3 separate regions of the Homo sapiens genome follow, and all the other regions are linked to region 1. Evidence: fine-mapped expression QTL. A gene starts in region 1. Each other region holds a variant in brackets. All regions are shown on one strand. Distances are from middle to middle. Region 1 holds the start of WLS (Wnt ligand secretion mediator). Region 2 has its middle 38 kb from the start of WLS. Region 3 has its middle 22 kb from the start of WLS.

The links. PIP is the estimated chance that this variant, and not a neighbour inherited with it, causes the effect.
Region 2: its variant is fine-mapped to the expression of WLS in whole blood (INTERVAL, PIP above 0.99).
Region 3: its variant is fine-mapped to the expression of WLS in whole blood (INTERVAL, PIP above 0.99). The same link has a PIP of 0.9 or more in T cells, blood mononuclear cells and monocytes.

Annotation. Positions count from the first base shown.
Region 1 is chr1:68,229,524-68,236,437 of GRCh38, reverse strand. WLS (Wnt ligand secretion mediator) reads left to right here and starts at 3,915. Exons shown (of 12, transcript NM_024911.7): 1 at 3,915-4,244. The coding sequence starts at 4,139.
Region 2 is chr1:68,266,874-68,273,942 of GRCh38, reverse strand. No RefSeq gene overlaps it. Among named protein-coding and RNA genes, the nearest start is that of WLS, 38 kb to the right of the region's middle. The variant G/C (reference allele first, on the strand shown) is at 3,274.
Region 3 is chr1:68,251,318-68,258,386 of GRCh38, reverse strand. No RefSeq gene overlaps it. Among named protein-coding and RNA genes, the nearest start is that of WLS, 22 kb to the right of the region's middle. The variant G/A (reference allele first, on the strand shown) is at 2,929.

The DNA.
Region 1 (6,914 bases):
CCAAAGTGCTGGGATTACAGGCGTGAGCCACCATGCCCGGCATATCCCAAACACTTTGAATAAAATGATGAATAAATCAGAATACCTAATATAAAGTCTAGTGGAATGGAGTTGAAATGATCAGTTTTTATTGACAGAGTTGGATTTGCCCTTGGATCATTTCAGTCTCTGGGATAATCTACCTAATGACAATGACTCAAAACAAACATTTCCTTGGCAGCTGGAAGTTTTTAGAACAGATGTTTCTATGTTAAAAACCACTGAGTATTGTCAAAGTTCAATTCTAGATGTTGTCCTTATTAACACACTTGTCAAGTAAAGTTAACCACCTAGACTTCTCCTAACATATGCTTCAAACAGTAATCACAATATGATAAAAATTTTAGAGCTGAGCAATAATCAGTCATCAGTTTTACTAGTTTTACTAGTTTTTAAACACAAAATTATTGATTTCCCTTAGTTTCCTAAATATAATAATAAATATTCATATCTTACAAGAATACCATGAAATAGTACTATTATTCCCATTTTACGGAAGGGAAAACTCTTCTGTAAAGAGTGAAGGTTTTACAGAAGCCTCAGAGTTGGTCTGTGAAGCCTCAGAGGTGGTAAGTAACTGCATAATGGCCTATAATCACATGAAACAAGGGGCAGATGGGATCTGGGTTCCAAACCAGATCCAGCTGACTCTAACTGTCATGTTCTTTTCTATTCACCTGTGTTGTCCGCTTGGGAAATAAAGATTCACAGTCACTTTTAATGTTTAAAAAGATGTGATAGAAATTCAATTTTTTTAAAGCAGCCCATGGTGATGAATACTACAGGTGTCTACATCCCACCAAGTTGGGCATTATTGGTAATCTCATGACAGAAGTACTGATTAGCAATTAGAAATATCCCTTTTTAATTAAAATAACTATTTAATAAGTGCTCTTTTAAAGCAGGGGATCATCTTGGTGGAGAACCAGCAACTCATTTACAGATGAGAAAACTGAAACCTAAGGAGTTAGGCTAGTTACTCTGCAGAGATGCATTTCAGAGCAGAGGGGGTGGGGTGTATTGTAGCAGCTCATTAAAAACTAAGTCAAGGAGTTCACTAATCTGAATAAATCACTTCTACCACTCCAGACATTTTTTATGGATCCAGTTTATATTTGAAGTGGACGGGGGCCAGGCGTGGTAGCTCACACCTGTAATCCCAGCACTTTGGGAGCAGAGGTGGGTGGATCACCTGAGGTCAGGAGTTCAAGACCAGCCTAGCCAACATGGCGAAACCCCATTTCTACTAAAAATACAAAAATTAGCTAGATGTGGTGGTGGGCACCTGTAATCCCAGCTACACAGGAGGCTGAGGCAGGAGAATTGCTTGAGCTCAGGAGGCAGAGGTTGCAGTGAGCCAAGATCGTGTCACTGCACTGCAGACTGGGCGACAGAATGAGACTCTGTCTCAAAAACAAACAAACAAATAAATAAACAAAAAACCCACCATTTTTTCTCTACCCTCTTATGCATAGTGCTTGGGGGTCTGTGGACTAAACTGACAAAAGACAGATTAGCAAGGCAAAAGACAAATTTTTGTTCACATATATCAAATGTATGTGGGCATTCATAACCACTCAAGGAGGCAGTTGTTAATAGAATTTGGAGCTTATATTCTATCTTAATAGGAGAAGAAGTGTATTTATGAGAAAACAAATGACTTTTAGGAAAGATAAATGGGCCCTTAGGAGTGCTGGGCTCAGAACATGATACCCCAAGGTATCTGAGTACTTTGAACTGAAGGACATTGGAAGGACAACAATTCTGTCTACTTCATCCTTTCTGATAGTACCTGGTGTTTGCCAAAGTAGAGGTAATTAATTACTATTCAGTGAATAACATTTGGACTGGGGGGGGGTTCCTCTGGGGCAGGTGCAAGTACTTTGACATCTTGGTATCCTTGAGTGCTTAAGAAAGAAAGCCTGGAACATGTTAAAGGCTCAATAAGTGACTTGGATAAAGAGTTGAATGAGAGAATAGATAAACAGCAACCACAGTCATGCATTGCTTAATGATGGGAATACCTTCTGAGAATGTGTTGTTAGGTGATTTGTCATTGTGCAAATGTCATAGAGGGCACTTACATAAACCTAGGTAGCATAGCCTACTACAGACCTAGGCTACACCGTGTAGCTGATTGCTCCTAGACTACAAACCTGTCTGGCATGTTACTGTACTGAACACTGTAGACAACTGTAATGCAATAGTAAGCACTCTGTGTATCTAAACATATCTATAGAAAAGGTGTTGTAAGAATATGGTATTATAACCTTATAGGACTACTGTCACACACACGGTCTGTTGTTGACTGAAACATCCTTATGTGACACATAATGATGTGTATATCCTCAGAACTGTTAAGAACTATTAGATGTTGAAGAGATGGAGTTTTGTATGCATAAAGTTTGGTGCTTGTCCTTGACAAGTCTCTGTTCTATTTGGAGATTAGAAATGAATGCTTCTATTAAGTGTAACCTGCATGACATCTTTTATAAGGGCAATGAAAATTCAGGAACAGAGTAGAGGAGGAGAGAGGACTGGGAAAAATAGTCTCTTGGCATGAAGAGGGTGTGTAAGGATGGGAGGGACAAGAAACAAGATGTGTGGGTGGTGGTGGTAGAAACTGCACGTTTGGGGAGCAGGGTGGGGTATTTACCAAACCAAGGGTCTATTGAGTAAGGTGAGTTGTACTGGCCAAGCGGCCAGTTTATGAAACATGGAAAAACCAGGCCCAGAAATTTAGGCTTGATAGAGCAGGAAATCTCTATCGGGAGCCCCGCCCCTCTTTTTATGGAAGTTAAGTATAAATATAAATATATGATTTCTCACAAAGAGACAACAAACATTGTAACTTAATATAGGTACCCTCTAAACCAACTAAGATCTCTTTAGACCTTTGAAATACAAACTGTGGGCTTGCTTTCACATTCACTTATTCATTCCACAAAAGATTATGGGGCACCTACTAGAGCTAGCATTTTGTTAGGCACCATGGGGGGTACAAAGAACAAAAAAAACTTGGTCCCTATTCCCCAGGAGTTTACAGCTCAGTGGTGGAGACAAACGTGTACACAAATCCTTACAATAGGAGGTAAAAATGTAAATACAGGATTGTAGGGGCTCAGTTCCCAGAGATACTGCATGGAGGTGGTGTGGAAAATTAGAAAGATTTTTTAACACTAGTTGGTTTTGGATCAGGTTTAACATTGATGGAGTAGAACATGTTCTCTTTAAGGCAATAACCAGGGTTAAGGCTGTGGAAGCACATGTGCTGGAGTAACGAACAGTGGTCTGATTTGGCTGGAGAGCAAGTTTCCTCAAGGGGCGCCGTGGGGAATTTAGCTGGGTATGTGCCCAATAACCGAGGCTGGGAATCTGGTAGAAAGAAGTCGAGCTGAGACTTTATTCCGCATCTCTGTGTTTTGACTTAGGCATCTATTGGGTCCTTTTAAAAAAAATTCTCCTCCTCTTTCCTAAAGAGAGTTCTAGCAGTTGGGGGTGGGGTGGGGACCATTTCCTAAAGTCAACGCGTAAGTTAAAGGTCTGCAAGGCGGTCCACCGGTGATTTAAATCTCGCACTTCGGAAACCAGAAAAGGAAACCTGTGAGAAGCTGGGCAGGGGGAACCCGCTTAACATCAACAGCAACCCCTAAATGGCATCAGACCTTGGAGAGACAGGTTGCAGGCCAGACTCGGGAGCCAGGCGCCAGCACCCGCCAGAGCTCTGAGCCCCGAACTGGTGGGCAAGGGGTAGAGGAAGAGAGGGAGGGAGGGAGGGAGGAAGCGCGAGAGGGAGGGAGGAAGAAAGGGAGGGAGGCGGCGTCATGTGATCCGCTTCCCTGCTCCTTTAAGCGTCCACAGGCGGCGGAGCGGCCACAATCACAGCTCCGGGCATTGGGGGAACCCGAGCCGGCTGCGCCGGGGGAATCCGTGCGGGCGCCTTCCGTCCCGGTCCCATCCTCGCCGCGCTCCAGCACCTCTGAAGTTTTGCAGCGCCCAGAAAGGAGGCGAGGAAGGAGGGAGTGTGTGAGAGGAGGGAGCAAAAAGCTCACCCTAAAACATTTATTTCAAGGAGAAAAGAAAAAGGGGGGGCGCAAAAATGGCTGGGGCAATTATAGAAAACATGAGCACCAAGAAGCTGTGCATTGTTGGTGGGATTCTGCTCGTGTTCCAAATCATCGCCTTTCTGGTGGGAGGCTTGATTGGTAAGTGCGGAGAGCTGCAAACTTTTCCCCCTTTCTGTCTTTTCGGGCCCCTTCCCTCTTTGCCTCTTGGGCTACTTGTTACAGTATCACTGCCTTGCTTCTATGATCTAATTAGTCCGGCTATTGTGCTTAAGAAAGCAGAGCTCCATGGGGCTCCGTGGGGCACAATCCAGTCTAGTGGCTAAGAGAAAAGGAGGGGAAAAAGTTTTGGCCTAGTTTCAGTATCCACTTGAAAGGCAAGAGGGGGGCGGCGGGGGTGGGAATCTTAAGCATGGCGACGGATCGCGCGAGGAAGCGCTGGGTTACAAAGTTGATTGCTCGCCCCCCCCCCCCCCCGCTTTTTCCCGCGTTCCCCCCCTTTTCCTCTCGGTTCCCTTCCAATCAGCTCCGGGAGGGCAACGTAATCGACTTTATTAGGAACAACAGAAGAGTCGGGGAACTGTGCCCGGCGCAAACCCGGAGCTCTGTTACAAGGCTGAGATACTTGCACGGTTGTAAATGCATTTGGTCGTCTTTGCTAGGGGCTGAGGGTTTGCAATTTGGGGTCCCGACCTTCGCGCCCTCTGCTTTCCCGCCGCACTCCACCCCACGCTCTGCCGTGGACAGGTCCGAATTGTCGGCCGGGAGGTTGGGTGGGATGGGGTGGGGTGGGAGGGAGTCCTTGACCAGCGCCGCGGGAAGTTGGAGAGGTCGGAGGGGAAAAGCGTATCCGAAAGGTGTTGCTTTTGGCCTCCTGCCCACTCGTGAATATCCCTTCCCCCACTACTTAGAGCCCCGAGAGCCGGTGACTGTGAATGTCCCCGTCCTCTTTTGGCGCTTAGGAGAGCGCCCTCAGCTCCCACCACAGCCCCCCGCAGGTGACAGCTCGCCGGCCTCCTCGGCGACAGCGCCCGCCCCGGGAGACCTCCCCTGGCGTGCACCTCCCGGACCTCTCTGAGTCAAACAGGCTTCCGGGTGAAGAAAACCGCCTCACGGACCGTCCACTCGGAAAAACTCCCTTCCCCTCACTGTCTCCCCATCTGCATCCATCCTCCCGCCTCTCTGCACACTCGCGCCCCCCGCCCCCTCAAGATTTGGGACATCCCGGCACAAACTTCAATGCCAACTTTGCAGCGGGCGCGGACGGGAGGTTCGGTTTCCTTACTTCACGGCTTTGTTAAACTTTGCGGAGTGGGGAGTCCACGGAGGGGCTTTCTCCGCGCGTGCCTTTACGGGCGCCCACGCGATGTGGGGTGCGGGGAAAACGCCCGGGGGCGCCGGCGGCGTCGCTGCCAGAGCTGCACAGGCTTGGGCACCTCCAGTCGTGTGCTTGGCGTTTTGTCTCCAGACTTGGGTTTGATGGGAACAAATTAAAGGGAGTTTGGTACTGTAAATCACGGTAACATCCAAGCCAATTGTCTTAAACAAAGGAGAGTGGGTGAAGCTTCATCAAGGAGAGAAATACCTAAAGGAGACAGTGCTCTTTTCTCTGTGTGCATTTATCCACAAAACAGAAAAGGGTTCAGAGTTTTCAAACAATCTCTTATCCCCAGTGTGGGCCAAACAGCTTCACATTTTCTTTCTGGAACCCTCACCCTCAACACACACACACACACACACACACACGCGCGCACACACACACACGGGTTGGCTTTTGTGTTAGGAGCTTCTGTTTGGCTACATGCAATCTCGTTTCCCCGTATTGGATTTTTCGAGGCTCTTAATACCTTCTCTGCTGGGAGCTGAAGGCAGCCTTCCCTGTGCCCTCACAGTGATTATGCAGCGGTTACAATTACACCTCTTGTCTCCCTTGATGAGCAGTTGCAGTTAGATGCCATTGGATCTTGTGTGATTTCAGTGGCAGACCATAATTAAAATTTCTTGCACCTTGTGCTTTCAGAATTAAATTGGCCTATTATCCCTGTCTGACCTTCATCCTCTTTGAGGTTTTTGCACAAGCAGCAAACCATTACACATAGTTTCCTGGTGTTTGTTGGTGTGTTTCTTTTTCTAGGCTGATCTCCTAGCTTTGCAGACAGAGCCCATTATCCAAGAAGTAGGCTTCCTAGGGCACTTCTGAAACTAGTAGGATTTCTGGGATGCTACCACCAAGGAGAAGCCCTAAGGGCACTCGTGAGTGGCTGGTGGACATTGGAGCGACTATAGGGTCAGAACACTTGTCTGTTCCAAACAGGGTTTGTCTGGAGTAAGTGGTGCCAAAGATTGTTTTTCCCGAAGAATTTGGTTAATGACGACAACCTCAAAAAGTCCGCGGCAGGTGCTAACTGTAACTAGCTTCCCCTCAATTAATAAACTGCTTTATTCCAATTTCCTTGAAAAATATCTATGTATAACACTTCTTGGAGGAAACTGTATAAGTTTACTGCTTACCTCTCCTTCCTCAATTGCAAAGGCTGTGTCTCCAATTCAGATCAGATCTAGCCCATGTTGAACAGTGACTTAGCCTTTCCTCTTTCACTTAAACAGTAATTTTTTTTTGCTCTTAAATCTAAAATTTGGGTAGGACCCAAATATGGGAAATAAATATCAACAAAATGTAAGTGAAAAATTTTCCCACCAAACTTCCCTAAGCTGGAAAACAAAGGAAACTAAGGAAAGAATAGCAACAAAGTGGGCAAGCGGAGACAGTAGTTGAAGGAACAGTTTGTAGGCTGGAAGTCAAGGTAAAGT
Region 2 (7,069 bases), 37 kb before region 1:
AGGATAACTATTCCTCTTCTTCTTGAACCTGTAAGAACCAGACTGGGATGACTGTTGATTTTCCATTGTTTCCAGCCTCAAACAGAGAAGGAATAACGATCGGGCCTTGTTCACCTTGCATGTTTTTACTCAGGGCATTCCGTGAACCAAGCACTTTGTTGACCCCATTCACAGAGATGTCTAGTATGTACCCATAGGCTGCATATGTGGTAGGTATCGTCCTTTCTATTTTGAAGATGTGAAACTGACTGATGCAAAGTGTTACCAGTAGGAAGTAGCACAGTCAGGGTTCAAAATCTGGTGGTTCTAATTCCAGGTACATTCCTTCATGGTATCTTCAAAGCCTTATGAAAAAACTGGAAAGACCTGGAAAATGTTCAATTCAATTGAATTCAGTGCAATTTGAATTGTTAATCAATTTAAATGTTCATCATTTGAGCTTTAAAGGTAGGCAAACTGGTTTTTTTTCTTTCTAACTATATGTCCATAAGAAATTTCCTTAATGGCCCTTGCATGTTATTCAAAATTCTAATTAGTAAAACTGTATCGTCATGAAGATTAAATGAGGTAATGTTATCAAGCACCTACTATATCATCTGCATCAAAATATCCTGTTTCCTACTCCATTCATCGGTTTGGTCCTTGTATCATTTTGTATCATTTCTTTGTTTTTTCCCCTTGTGGCCTTATTGTTTCCTGACATTTTAAAATATCTATCTGGCCTTCAGAGCTGAATTGTAAGAACTTCAGGATCAGGAGCTGTTCTCATAAAGATGGTTCTCAAATTTCGAAATTTTTATCTTTTTTTTTTTTTTTTTTTTTTGAGATGGAGTCTCGCTCTATTGCCCAGGCTGGAGTGCAGTGGCACAATATCGATTCACTGCAACCTCTGCCTCCTGAGTTCAAATGATTCTCCTGCCTCAGCCTCCTGAGTAGCTGGGATTGCAGGCACCCACCACCACATCCAACTAAGTTTTGTAATTTTAGTAGAGACGGGGTTTCACCATGTTGGTCAGGCTGGTCTAGAACTCCTGACCTCGTGATTCGCCTGCCTCGGCCTCCCAAAGTGCTAGGATTACAGGCGTGAGCCACTGTGCCCTGCTTCAAATTTGTATTTTTTTAATGTGTGAAATCTTATACATTGCACATTGACACTCAAAGTACTAAATTAATATCAGCTTCCACACATCACCCAATGAGCATGAATTTGAACTCTCAACTAGTGGTGCCTTCGGCCAGGATTCCTAGGTTCAATTCGGATGGCATCATTATCTTTATGCAGCAATTTTTGCTTGTTCTATTATTTGAATAGCTAATCGCATTTGCCCTTCTAATATGTGAAAAGCCATAACAAAAAAGTGATTGTGACATAATAAAAGATATCCCCTAAATGGCAGATCTACATCTCAAATAGATTATTATTGGACTTAAGCTGATATTTGTGTTCAACTGTGAAGAGTAAGAATAAAATTAAGGGCCATGCATGAAGCATTGGAAGTCTGTCTTTTCAGGGTCAGCCTAAGAGGAGAGGAGTAGTGGTGGGGACATGAAGAACACTTTAGAATTTTAATTGTGAATCTGCATAAAAATCATTGACAGAGAAGTTCAAGGGTTTAAAGAGACATAGCCAAGGGTAAAGCTCACACAGATTTCTCAATTAAGTAGAGATTGGCAGAGTTGAATTTTTCTTTAACAAAAATATTTTTAAAAACTAATACCGGCAGGGCGCAGTGGCTCACGCCTCTAATCCCAGCTCTTTGGGAGGCTGAGGCGAGCGGATCACAAGGTCAGGAGTTCGAGACCAGCCTGGCCAATATGGTGAAACCCCATCTCTACTAAAAAAATACAAAAAACTAGCCGGGCGTGGTGGCGGGCGCCTGTAGTCCCAGCTACTCGGGAGGCTGAGGCAGGAGAATGGCGTGAACCCGGGAGTCCGATCTTGCAGTGAGCCGAGATCGCACCACTGCACTCCAGCCTGGGAGACAGAGCGAGACTCCGTCTCAAAAAACAAACAAACAAACAAACAAACAAAAAAACCATGAAATCATTTCATAATACCATGAAATCATCACTATAAGTTCCTGCTCAATCTCTGCACAACAACATTAGCAAATTCTTCTTCCCACAGTAAAATGATTTGGTTGTTTTGTTTACTAAATGTCACTTTTAGGAAGTAAGTTCTGCAAGGGCAGGAATATCTGTTTTGTTCAGAGATGTGTTCTAAGCACACAGATCAGCACCTGGCATGGAGTAATCGCTGAATAAGTATTTACTGAATGGAATTCAAGTAAACTGAAGTTTAAATAAGATATTACTTTGTAAAATTATCTGTTATACATCTGATGAGAGGTTAATATTCAAAATATATAAGAAACTCAAACAACTCAATAGTAAGAAAACAATCTAATACAAAAATGGGTAGATGGTTTGAATAGGTATTTCTCAAAATAAGACACATAAGTGGCCAACAGGTATATGAAAAAGATGTTCAGGATCACTAATCAACAGAGAAATGCAAATTAAGACCATAGTGAGAGATATCACCTCGCAGCTATCAGAATGGCTATTATTGCAAAGATGAAAGATAACATGTTGGCAAGGATGTGGAAAAAAGGCAACCCTTATACACTGTTTGTGGAAATGTAAATTAGAACATCCATTATGAAAAAAAAATATGGAGGTTCCTCAAAAAATTGAAAATAGAACCCATGATATGATTCAGCAATCTCACTACTGGGTATATATCTGAAGGAAATGAAATCAGTATGTGCAATAGAAGAGACAGCTGCACTTCCACATTCATTGAAGCACTATTCACAACAGCCAAGATATGGAATCAACCCAAGTGTCCAGCAATGAATGAATGAATAAAGAAAATGTGGTATATGTACACAATGGAATACTATTTGGTCTTTAAAAGGAAGGAAATTGTGTCATTTGTGACAACATGAATGAGCCTGAAAGACATTATGTTAAGTGAAATAAGCCAGGCACAGAAAGATACATACCACATGATCTCACATGTGGAATCTAAAGAAGTTGGACTCAGAGAAGTAGAGAGTAGAATGGTGGTTACCAGGGGCTAGAGAGTGTAGGGGGCTTAGGAAAATGTTGATCAAAAGACGCAAAATTTCAGTTAGGTAAGTTCAAATTAGTTAAAATAAGTTCAACAGCTCTATTGTACAACATGGTGACTATACCTAATTAAAAAGGTATGTAACTATTTGCTGCCGGGTGTGGTGGCTCACGCCTGTAAACCCAACACTTTGGGAG[G/C]CTGAGTCAGGCAGATCATGAGGTCAGGAGTTCAAGACCAGCCTGGCTAACATAGTGAAACTCCATCTCTACTAAAAGTACAAAAAATTAGCCGAGTGTGGTGACAGGTGCCTGTAATCCCAGCTACTCAGGAGGCTGAGGCAGGAGAAATGCTTGAACCTGGGAGGTGGAGGTTGCAGTGAGCCGAGATAGTGCCACTGCACTCCAGCCTGGGTGACAGAGCAAGACTCTGTCTCAAAAAAAAAAAAATTATTTGCTATATTCAATTTTTTTCTCTGTTTAATAATTATGTGATCCTTCTATAACCTAGGAGTTTAAGAAAATCTAAAATAGATAATATGATTAGGATTTTATTATTTAGCTCTCACAGGTTCAGAAAAGCTGAGTACCAAGTTAGGCTCTGTCATGCGTTAGGCATGTAACCTTGATCAAGTCACTAAACCTCCCTGAGCCTGATTTAAGATAGATAAATAGTAACATATTTATGTAACAAACCACATATTTATCTTTGTATCTGTACTGCAGAATTAGGACAGTTTATAAGAATACCTACAATAAACTAAAGTAAATAAATTGCATACAGAAATATGTAAATACATATAAGTTCCAAGAAAAATACAGGTTGAGTGGGAAAACAAGACTAAGTAAAAGGGCTCCGTTTCTTTTTCAGTTCTTAAGATACAACCTTAGAGATTAATGTGAGAATCAAATGATTTAATAGGATGCTGTTTGATAAAGAGTTCATTGACCATGATGCACAGAGAGGCTGTATAAAGAGAAACAAGCCCAGCCATACCTCACATTCCAGCCACCCCCATTGGAGCCCCAGACGTGTGAGTGAAGTCACCATAGACTCTCCAGCCCAGGTGAGTCACCCTGTCCAGCACCACACAGCAGGGATAAGCTGCCACCACCATGCTCTGCCCAAATTGGAGAATTATGGGCAAAAATATGGCTGTTTTAAACCACTACCTTTTGGGTTAGCTTTTTATACAGTAATAGATAAACAGTTTGGTTTCATTTCTTGGTCTCAATAGCAGCAACTTTCGTCTCCTGTCTGGAGCAACTCCCTCTTTATTTCACCAATTATCACTCCACTATCTGTCCTTTTGCATCCATGGATTTTGAAGGAAGGTCAGTGGTATTGTGTGGAAAAGGCTTTGGCCTTTGACTGATACCTCCAAAAAAATTATCATGTGTGAATACTAAACAAAAATAATATTTAAAGCTGCAAATTGTTTGGCAATACAAAAATAGAAATCTGAGCCTTCTATTGACCAAAAATCAGAAATTGGATGTCACAGTGGCTTGTTTGCATTAGGCCAGAAGGAAGAAAAATGATATTAGTCATTCCCAGTGAGCAACAGTGAGAGATTGGCACGTGCACATGAAATGCAATCTCGCTTCCCATAGAAAGTGATTAAAAAGATTAACACACACACAAACACACCTTTTGTATTCCCAATTTTAATATATTGTACAACAAATACGTTAATATCAAGGAAAAGAAAGTAAGCCACAAGCTTTTCACCAAAATGTAACTACAGTCATGTATTGCTTAATGATGGGGATACCGTCTGAGAAATGCATCCTTGGGCAATTTTGCTGTTATTCAAACATCATAGAGGGAACTTACACAGAACTAGATGGTATAGCCTGCTAACACCTCAGGTATAAGGTATAGTCTATTGCTCCTAGGTTATGAACCTGTACAGCATGTTAGTATATTGAATACTGCAGGCAATTGTAACACAATGGTAAATGTTTGTGTATCTAAACATAGGAAAACTGTAAAATAGGAAAATACAGTAAAAATAAAATATCATATAACACACCTATATAAGGCATTTATTATGAATGAAACTTGCAGGACTGGAAGTTGCCGTGGGTAAGTTGGTGAGTGAGTAGTGAATAAATGTGAAAGTCTAGGACATTTCTGTACACTATTGTATACTTTACAAACGCTACACTTAGACTACACTAAATTTGTTTTAAAATATTTTTCTTTCATTAATAATAAATTAACCTTGGCTCACTGTAACTTATCTACTTTATAAATTCAATTTTTTTAACATTGTGACTCTTCTGTAATAACATATCTTAAAACATACATTTTGCAGCTGTTCACAAATATTTTATTTTTTTATCTTTATTCTGTAAGCTTTTTTTCTACTTTTATCATTTTTTTTTAACTTTTTTACATTTTAGTTAAAAACTAAGCACAAAAACACACATTACCTAGGCCTACATAGGGGCAGGATCATCAATATCACTATCTTCCACCACTGCATCCTGTCCCACTAAAAGGTCTTCAGGGTCAATAATACACCTGGAGCTCTCATCTGTGATAATAGTGCCTTCTTTTGGAGTACCTCCTAAAGGCCTGCCTAAGACCATCTTTCAGTTAACTTTTTATTTTTATAAATAGAAGGAGTACACTCTAATATAATGATAAAAATATAGTACAGTAAATACGTAAACCAGTAAGTTTATTATTATTATCAAAGTATTATATACCGCACATCATTGTATGTGCTGCACATAATCATATGTGCTCTACAACTGGCAGCACAATAGGTTTGTTTGCAACCAGCATCACCACACACGTGTGAGTAATGTGTTTTGCTCCAATGTTATGATGCCTACAATGTCACTAGGCGAATAGGAATTTTTTAGCTCCATTTTAATTTTATGGAACCACCATCCTATAGGCAGTCTGTCATTGACCAAAATGACATTATGCAGTGCAAGACTGTATTTTTATCTTGCCAAGTTCCTTTTCGATCCCTTTCCAAGTGCATTAACTGTGAATCCTTATTTTTAGCTGATTAATTATCTAACTCCTCTTTCACAGGCACAAGAACCAATGTGAACCCAAAGCAATGAGGAAGGAAGGCAGGAAAGGGAAAATAAGGGAGTGTTCCTTGTTGCCCTGGAGGCTTGGAGGAAAGCTGCTTAATTCTCAATTTATTTTTCTCCATTTATTCAGTCAATAAATGTTACTACAAAATTTTTAAGTACTTTTCATTTCTTAAAATTCTTCAGCTGTGTAATTACTTGTTCATTGATCTTCTGCCCAGTTAGACTGTAAGCTATGCGTGAGGCCAGAGGCCAGATCTGTTTTTTCTCGTTTTTTTTTTTTTTTTTTGGTTGCAGTGTTGCAGTGAGCCAAGATCATGCCCAGGCTGGAGTGCAGTGGTGCAGTCTCGGTTCACTGCAACCTCCACCTCCCGGGTTCAAGCAATTCCTGTGCTTCAGCCCCCCAAGTAGCTGGGATTACAGGCATGCGTCACCACACCCAGCTAATTTTTGTATTTTTAGTAGAGATGGGTTTCACTATGTTGGCCAGGCTGGTCTCGAACTCCTGACCTCAGGTGATCCGCCTGCCTCAGCCTCCCAAAGTGCTGGGATTACAGGAGTGAACCACCATGACTGGCCTCAGATCTGTTTTTTCTTAATCACTACTGTATATCTAGCGTCTAACCTAATGCCTAGCACAATGCCTTAAGAGGCATTTAGTAAATGTTTGTTGGTTTGAAGTATGGGAATTGCAAGTCCAGAGGACACATTTACCAAACTAGGAATGGAAAGGAAGAAGTAAGGAGAAAATGGTTGTTAAATAGTGGGTGAGAGTCTATACATTAAAAGGAGAGCGTGCATGCTCTAATGTACTTTATAATAAATGTGGTCTATTTGATTAATGCTGCCAGCTCAAATTTGGGTCTTCTGGAAAAAAAAAATGATGAAACCATCTCCGGAGACATTTTGTATTCAGTTCATTTAATATTTATACTGA
Region 3 (7,069 bases), 22 kb before region 1:
TTAAAAGTGACCTAAATAGACATTTCAAAAGACCTAAATAGACTTTTCTCAAAAGAAAGCATACAAATTACCAATGGGTATATGAAAAAATGCTCAACATCACTAATCATCAGAGAAAATGCAAATCAAAAACACAATGAGATATAATATCATCCCAGTTAAAATGGCTATTATTAAAAAGACAAAAAATAACAAATCTTTATGAGGATTCCACAAAAGAGAACAGCTGTACACTATTGTTGGGAATGTAAAGTAGCACAGCCATTATGGAAAATGGTATGAAGGTTTGTCAAAGAATTAAGAATAAAACTATCATATTGTCCAGCAATCCCAAGGCGAGGTATATATCCAAAAGAAAGGAAACCAGTATATTGCACAGATATCTGCATTCCCATGTGTATTTCAGCACTATTCACAATAGCCAAGATATGGAATCAACCTAAGTGTCCATTATTGAATGAGTGGATATAGAAAATGTTACATATACACAATGGAATATTAGCCATAAAAAAGAAGAGTCCTATTTGCAACAACATGGCTGGAGGTCATCATGTTAAATGAAATAAGCCAGGCACATACACACAAATATCACATATTCTCACTCATATACAGGAGCTAAAATAATGGATTTCAAGGAGGTTGAGAGTAGAATGGTGCTGACCAAGGGCCTGTAAGGAAACCAGTGGAGATGAAGAGAAGTTGGTTAATAAGCACCAAAATACTGTTAGGTAGAAGGAATAGGTTATGGTATTTGATATACAGTAGGGAAATTATAGTTAATAATCAGTATTGTATATTTCAAAATAGGTAGATGGGAAGAATTGTAATGTTTCAAATAAAAAGAGAAGATAAATATTTGAGGTGGTGGACACCCCGTTTGCCCTGATTGATAATTACACATTACATATGTGTATCAAAATATCACATGTACCCCAAGATATGTATAACTACGATACCTCAATAAAAAGTACCAAAAATTTTAGACAGCATGTTTACAAAGGAGATGTGGTGTACATACTGTATATTATGTAACATCCCCAGCAGAGTCTGAGGTAGCATTTTAAAATCTAAAGCATTGTATCAGCTAGCTATTACCTCAATAATTCATCATAACAAAACACTCCAAAACTCGATGGCTTACAAAAGCAACCATGTTTTTCTTATTTCATAGCTCTGTGGGGATGCTGTTCTGTATTTCTTCTCATTCTTTCAGGATCACTGATTCCCTGGGGCAGGCCTTCTCATGGTGAATAATGGGAAGGCCAAAGACCCAAAAAACTCAAATCTCATCAGCACATTTAATGCCTCTGCTCTCATCAGCTCCCCTCACATTCCATTGGCCAAAGCCAGTCATATGACTAAGTCCAGCTGTAGCAGGACCAGCCGCAGGCAAAACTCCTCAGACACCGAGTTAAAGAAAGAAGGGGTTTATTCGGCCAGGGGCATCAGCAAGACTCCTGTCTCAAGAGCTGAGCTCCCCAAGCGAGCAATTCCTGTCCCTTTTAAGGGCTCACAACTCTAAGGGGGTGTGCGTGAGAGGGTCATGATTGATTGAGCAAGCAGGGGGTATGTGACTGGGGGCTGCATGCACCGGTAATTAGATTGGAACAAAACAGGATAGGGATTTTCACAGTGCTTTTCTGTACAATGTCTGTAATCTATAGATAACGTAACCAATTAGGTCAGGGGTCAATTTATAACTACCAGGCCCAGGGTGTGGCACCAGGCTGTCTGCTTGCAGATTTCATTTCTGCCTTTAGTTTTTACTTTTTCTTTCTTTGGAGGCAGAAATTGGGCATAAGACAATATGAGAGGTGGTTTCCTCCCTTACAACGTTAGGGAAATATATTTCTTCCCATGAGGGAGAAGGTAGGTGAAGTGTTGCTATAAAATACTCAAATTAATATACTAACATTTCTTCAGTAAAACATATGAATATCTCTGCATTCAGTGGGATAAATACAAATTATAAATAACCCCAAGATAGTTTGGTTTTCAGAACCTTTTGGATTTTATATTTGAGATGAAAATCTCCATCAAGCCCTTGTGATCCTTCCTCTCTTGTCCTTTTACTCTGTAATTCCTACTCCTGAGACCAAGGGCTTCAGTAAGGATGGCGTTCCCTCTGCTTAAGGCCGCCAAAAGCTACTGTTGCTACATGTCTCCTAATGTCCTTCAAGGCATATATGTCATACACTTCTTTTGTTACCCTCACAGAACCTAACAGAAGCTCCGGATCCATAGGAAACCCATAAGAGAAATGCTTATTCAATTGGATTATAACATCAGTGAAGCCTGTAGACCCAATGCAAGCCAAGCATGAAAAGGTGTGAGGATGCCAAGGCTTAAGGACATTTTCTGTCATTCAGTTCTTGCATCTCATCCACTCCTACTCCATAAGTGTTCTCTTCTTAAAGAATATCTTAACAGTTTGCAGCTGTGTTAATCAAACTTCCCATTGTCTCTTTATTACATAACTCACACTTTCACATTTTTAAACAAAATGAGATAGTTACTTTGACTTCAACAATAGTCTCCTAAAATAAAGGGGGGAAGAGTTGGCATTAGAGTTATACTAACATCTAAGGCCAAGTAATTAGTGACTCCACTATTTTTCTATTCCCTTAACTATCTGAGAATCATGTATCTAAGAAGATTTGAAGTACGGCTGTGGATTTGTGTTTAAAGTGGAACATTGCCCAATAACAGTGCTGTCTACTATATATTTTTCCCTAACTCTTCTGGCCTAAAGTGTAATTAAAATAGAGAGCTATTACAACCGAATGGTTATTACTTGTTTCATATTACAGTAGGTTGGTTGATGTCTTCTTCAGAAATAAATAACTCAACTTCACCTGGAGGACTTTTCCGATGTCCCAATGTGATCCTTGAGTGACGAAATCATGGTTTCTTAAGTTTTGGAAGGAA[G/A]ATGAAATAAACCCAAAGATTATGAAAGAAGAACAATAGAAAATTGCTGAATCACCAGCAACTGAACCAAACAAAAGAGTTTAAATAAATAATTTATTTTTAAACCTACATCATAAAAAATGACAAATCAAAGATAAATAAATCAATAGAAGCTTTGTAGGTCTCAAAGGAGATTTCTGGGCATATTTCTGGGACTTTATAAGTTGACGCAAATTCTCTATCACTTTTTAAAATTAGCTGGTTTATTTTATTACAGCAGCAATAAGGTTCAAAATTTTAAAATAAACAAAATAAGAAAGCATAAATTAAAACATCAAATTTCCCTACCTTCTATCTTTTCCTTCTCTGTAACCACGGACGTAACCTCTGGTAACATTTTCTTCCATTTATAGCCATTGAGAATATTTCACTTTCAGTGTTTATATTAATTTGCTCAGGCTGCCATAACAAAATACCTCAGTCTGGGTGGCTTAAACAGCAGAAATTTATTTTCTCACAGTTCTGGAGGCTAATAGTCCAAGGTCAAGATGTCAGCAGGTTGAGTTTCTTCTGAGACCTCTCTCCTTGGCTTGCAGTTGGCTGCCTTATTTCTAAGCCCTCACATTGATTTTCTCTGTTTGCTCACATCCTTGGTGTGCCTCCAGTGTCTTAATCTCCTCTTCTTTACAAGGACACCAGTTGGATTGGATAAGGACCCACACTAACAGTCTCATCTTAATTTAACAACCTCTTTAAAAGCTTTATTTCCACATACAGTCACATTTTCAGGTGCGGAGAGTGAGGGTTTTCACATACAAATTTTAGGAAAAGACTGCTCAGCCCATAACACTATCTTAAAAAGCAAAGCAATGCTACAGCAAAATGATGAAATTCCTGTAGACATATCTTTGAACACTTTTGCAGGCATATGGGTAAGATAAATTTCAATTTGGGGGTCAAAGAGTATGCTCAGCAATAATTTGGATAGATGTTGATAAATTTCCTACAAAAGGTTTGTAATAATTTATTCTATCAACAATATATAGACCTGCATAGTTCCCTTCAGCTTTGGGCTTACATAACCTTTTAATATTCTTAATTGGATAAAAAAATACACTTTGTTCTTCAGTTTATGTATTTTAAAATATTATATGGTTAAGTATCTTTTCAGGTGTGAATTGCGCACTCATATTTTTTCCATAAACTCCTTTGCCCACTTTTTTTCTATTGGGTTATATATCTTTGTTTCTGTTTTTGTTTTGGAGACAGGGTTTCACTCTGCCACCCAGATAGAGTGCAATGGTGCAATCATGGCTCACTGTAGCTTCAGACTTCGAAGCTCAAACGGTCCTCCTGCTTCAGCCTCCCCAGTACCTCAGACTACAGGTACATGCCACCACTCCCAGTTAATTTTTGAATTTTTCTTTTGTAGAGGCCATAGGGTCTGGCTATGTTGACCAGGCTGGTTTCAAACTCCTGGCCTCAAGGAATGCTCCAGCCTCAGCCTCTCAAAGTGCTGGGATTACAGGTTTGAGCCACCATGCTCAGCCTTACCTTTTATTTACTTATTTGGAAGAATTTTTTTTATATTAAGGTGCCTTGTCGTATTTGTTGCAAATATTTTTTCCCAATATGTGCTTGTCTTCTATTTGACCTTTTTTCACGGCAGAGTGTTAAAATTGATAGAAATTGAAAATGTTAAGATTAAAATGTAGATATTAATCTTTTTCTTTTGGCTTGAGGACTTTGAAATAAGTTTAGAAAGGCATTTCCTATACCAAGTTTATGTTTGGATTAGTATTATTCATGTTCTTGCTTATTATTTTGGGATTTCTTTTATTCACATCTTAATAGAGAAGAAGGAAGGGTAAAATCCAGGTTTATGTTTTTCAAATGTTCAATCAGTATTACCAACATTATTTATTTAATAATTTATATTTTTCTCATTTATTAAAAATGTGACTTTTATCATTTTATTATTAAACTCAGATAATTACTCCAGATTATTTATGGATTTGTTCATCTATCTCATTGATCTTTTTTGTTTATTTGTGGTCAGAAAGAAAGTTCAGATACTTTAAAGCAACACTTTATCTGATGTACTCAACCCACCTCATGATTCTTCTCTTTTCAAATATTTTCCTACGTGTTTATTTTGTCATATAAATTTTAGCATCATTTCATTCAAATTTCAAAAATCTTCAAAAAACTTTGTTTATATTTTTGATAGGAATTGCTTTATAGTTTAGATTAATTCAAAAATAACTCTTTCAAAATATTGATTCATCAGATGGAAACCATCATTCTCAGCAAATTATCACAAGAACAGAAAATCAAACACCGCATGTTCTCACTCATAAGTGGGAGTTGAACAAGGAGAACACATGGACACAAGGGAAGGGAACACCACACATCCAGACATCTGGGCCTGTTGGGGGGTGGGGGGCTAGGGGAGGGATAGCATTAGAAGAAATGCCTAACGTAGATGACGGGTTGATAGGTGCAGCAAACCACCATAGCACGTGTATACCTATGTAACAAAACTGCACATTTTGCACGTGTACCCCAGAACTTAAAGTAAAAAAAAAAATTGTATGCAGAGAAGTAACATAGGAACATAAACTTTAGAAAAATGTTACTAATCAGATAACTTTGAATAAACCACTTAATCCCACTAAAAAATAGATAGGTAGGTAGGTAGATAGACAGATATAGATAGATAGATGATAGATATAGATAGATAGATAGATAGATAGATAGATAGATGATAGATAGATAGATAGATAGATAGATAGATAGATAGATAGATTCATCTATCCAAACAAAAGATGTCTTTTCATTTAACTCATTTTTAAAAATTTTGACTCAGTGAAATTTTAAATTTTCATGCTTTCTTATTAGATTCATTCCTAGAATAGTTATTGTGAATGAGATATTCTTCTCCATTCTACTTTCTAGCAGATAATCATTATTCTAAAGTAAAGTACTGGACTTTTTTTTTTTTTTTTTTTTTGAGATGGAGTCTCACTCAGTCGCCCAGGCTGGAGTGCAGTGGCGCAATCTTGGCTCACTGCAACCTCCACCTCCCAGGTTCAAGCAATTCTCCTGTCTCAGTCCCCCAAGTAACCAGGACTACAGGTGCGCACCACCACGCCCGGCTAATTTTTTGTAGTTTTAGTAGAGGTGGGGTTTCACCATGTTGGCCTGGCTGGTCTCAAACTCCTGACCTCACATGATCCACCTGCCTCAGTCTCCCAAAGTGCTGGGATTACAGGCATGAGGCACCACATCCAGCCAAGTAATTGACTTTTAATTATTGTGATTAGCTTTATTATTGCTTGAATTATTTTTATTTGAATTTTTAGATTTATAATTGTATCAATCACACATAATTCTAAGTTTGTTTCCTTCTTGTTTCTCTTTTTATTCTCTTCTTCAGTTGCAATGGCTAGCATCTCCAAAATAAATATCAAATAATAATGGTGATTTCAATTCTAGATTGTACTAGAGAAATTCACCAATACAATAAAGCAAGCAAACAAAATGAAAGCTATAAAGTTTGGAAACAGAAGTAAAATTATTATTGTTCATATATGACATGATTGTTTATGTAAAAAAATTGAAAAAATCTACAAACAAATTATAAGAATACATTTATTTTGTAAGGTCAGTGGATAGAAGGTTGATATAGAAAATCAATTTTATTTATATGTACTACACAACTAGAAAATAAAAAAAATTTAATACTTTTTATAATAGCACTGGAATTTTCTGTGTTTGGGTATAAAAGTAATAAAAGTAGTACAATATCTCTTCCTTAAAAATAATAAAATATAGGCTGGGTGCAGCATCTCATGACTGTAATTCCAGCACTTTGGGAGGCTGAGGCAGGAGTATCACTTGAGGTCAGAATTTCGAGACCAGCCTGGGCAACACAGCCAGACCCCACCTCAAAAAAAATAATATATATATATTTTTTAAGTTAGCTGGGAGTGGTGGCTCATACCTGAATTCCTAGCTACAGGGTAGGCTTAGGCAAGGTAATCACCTGAGCCCAGGAGATTGTGACTGCAGAGAGCTATGATTGTGCCACTTCACTCCAGCCTGGGTGACAGAGTGAGACCTTGTCTCAAAAAAGAAAAGATAAAATATGGCCAAGAAA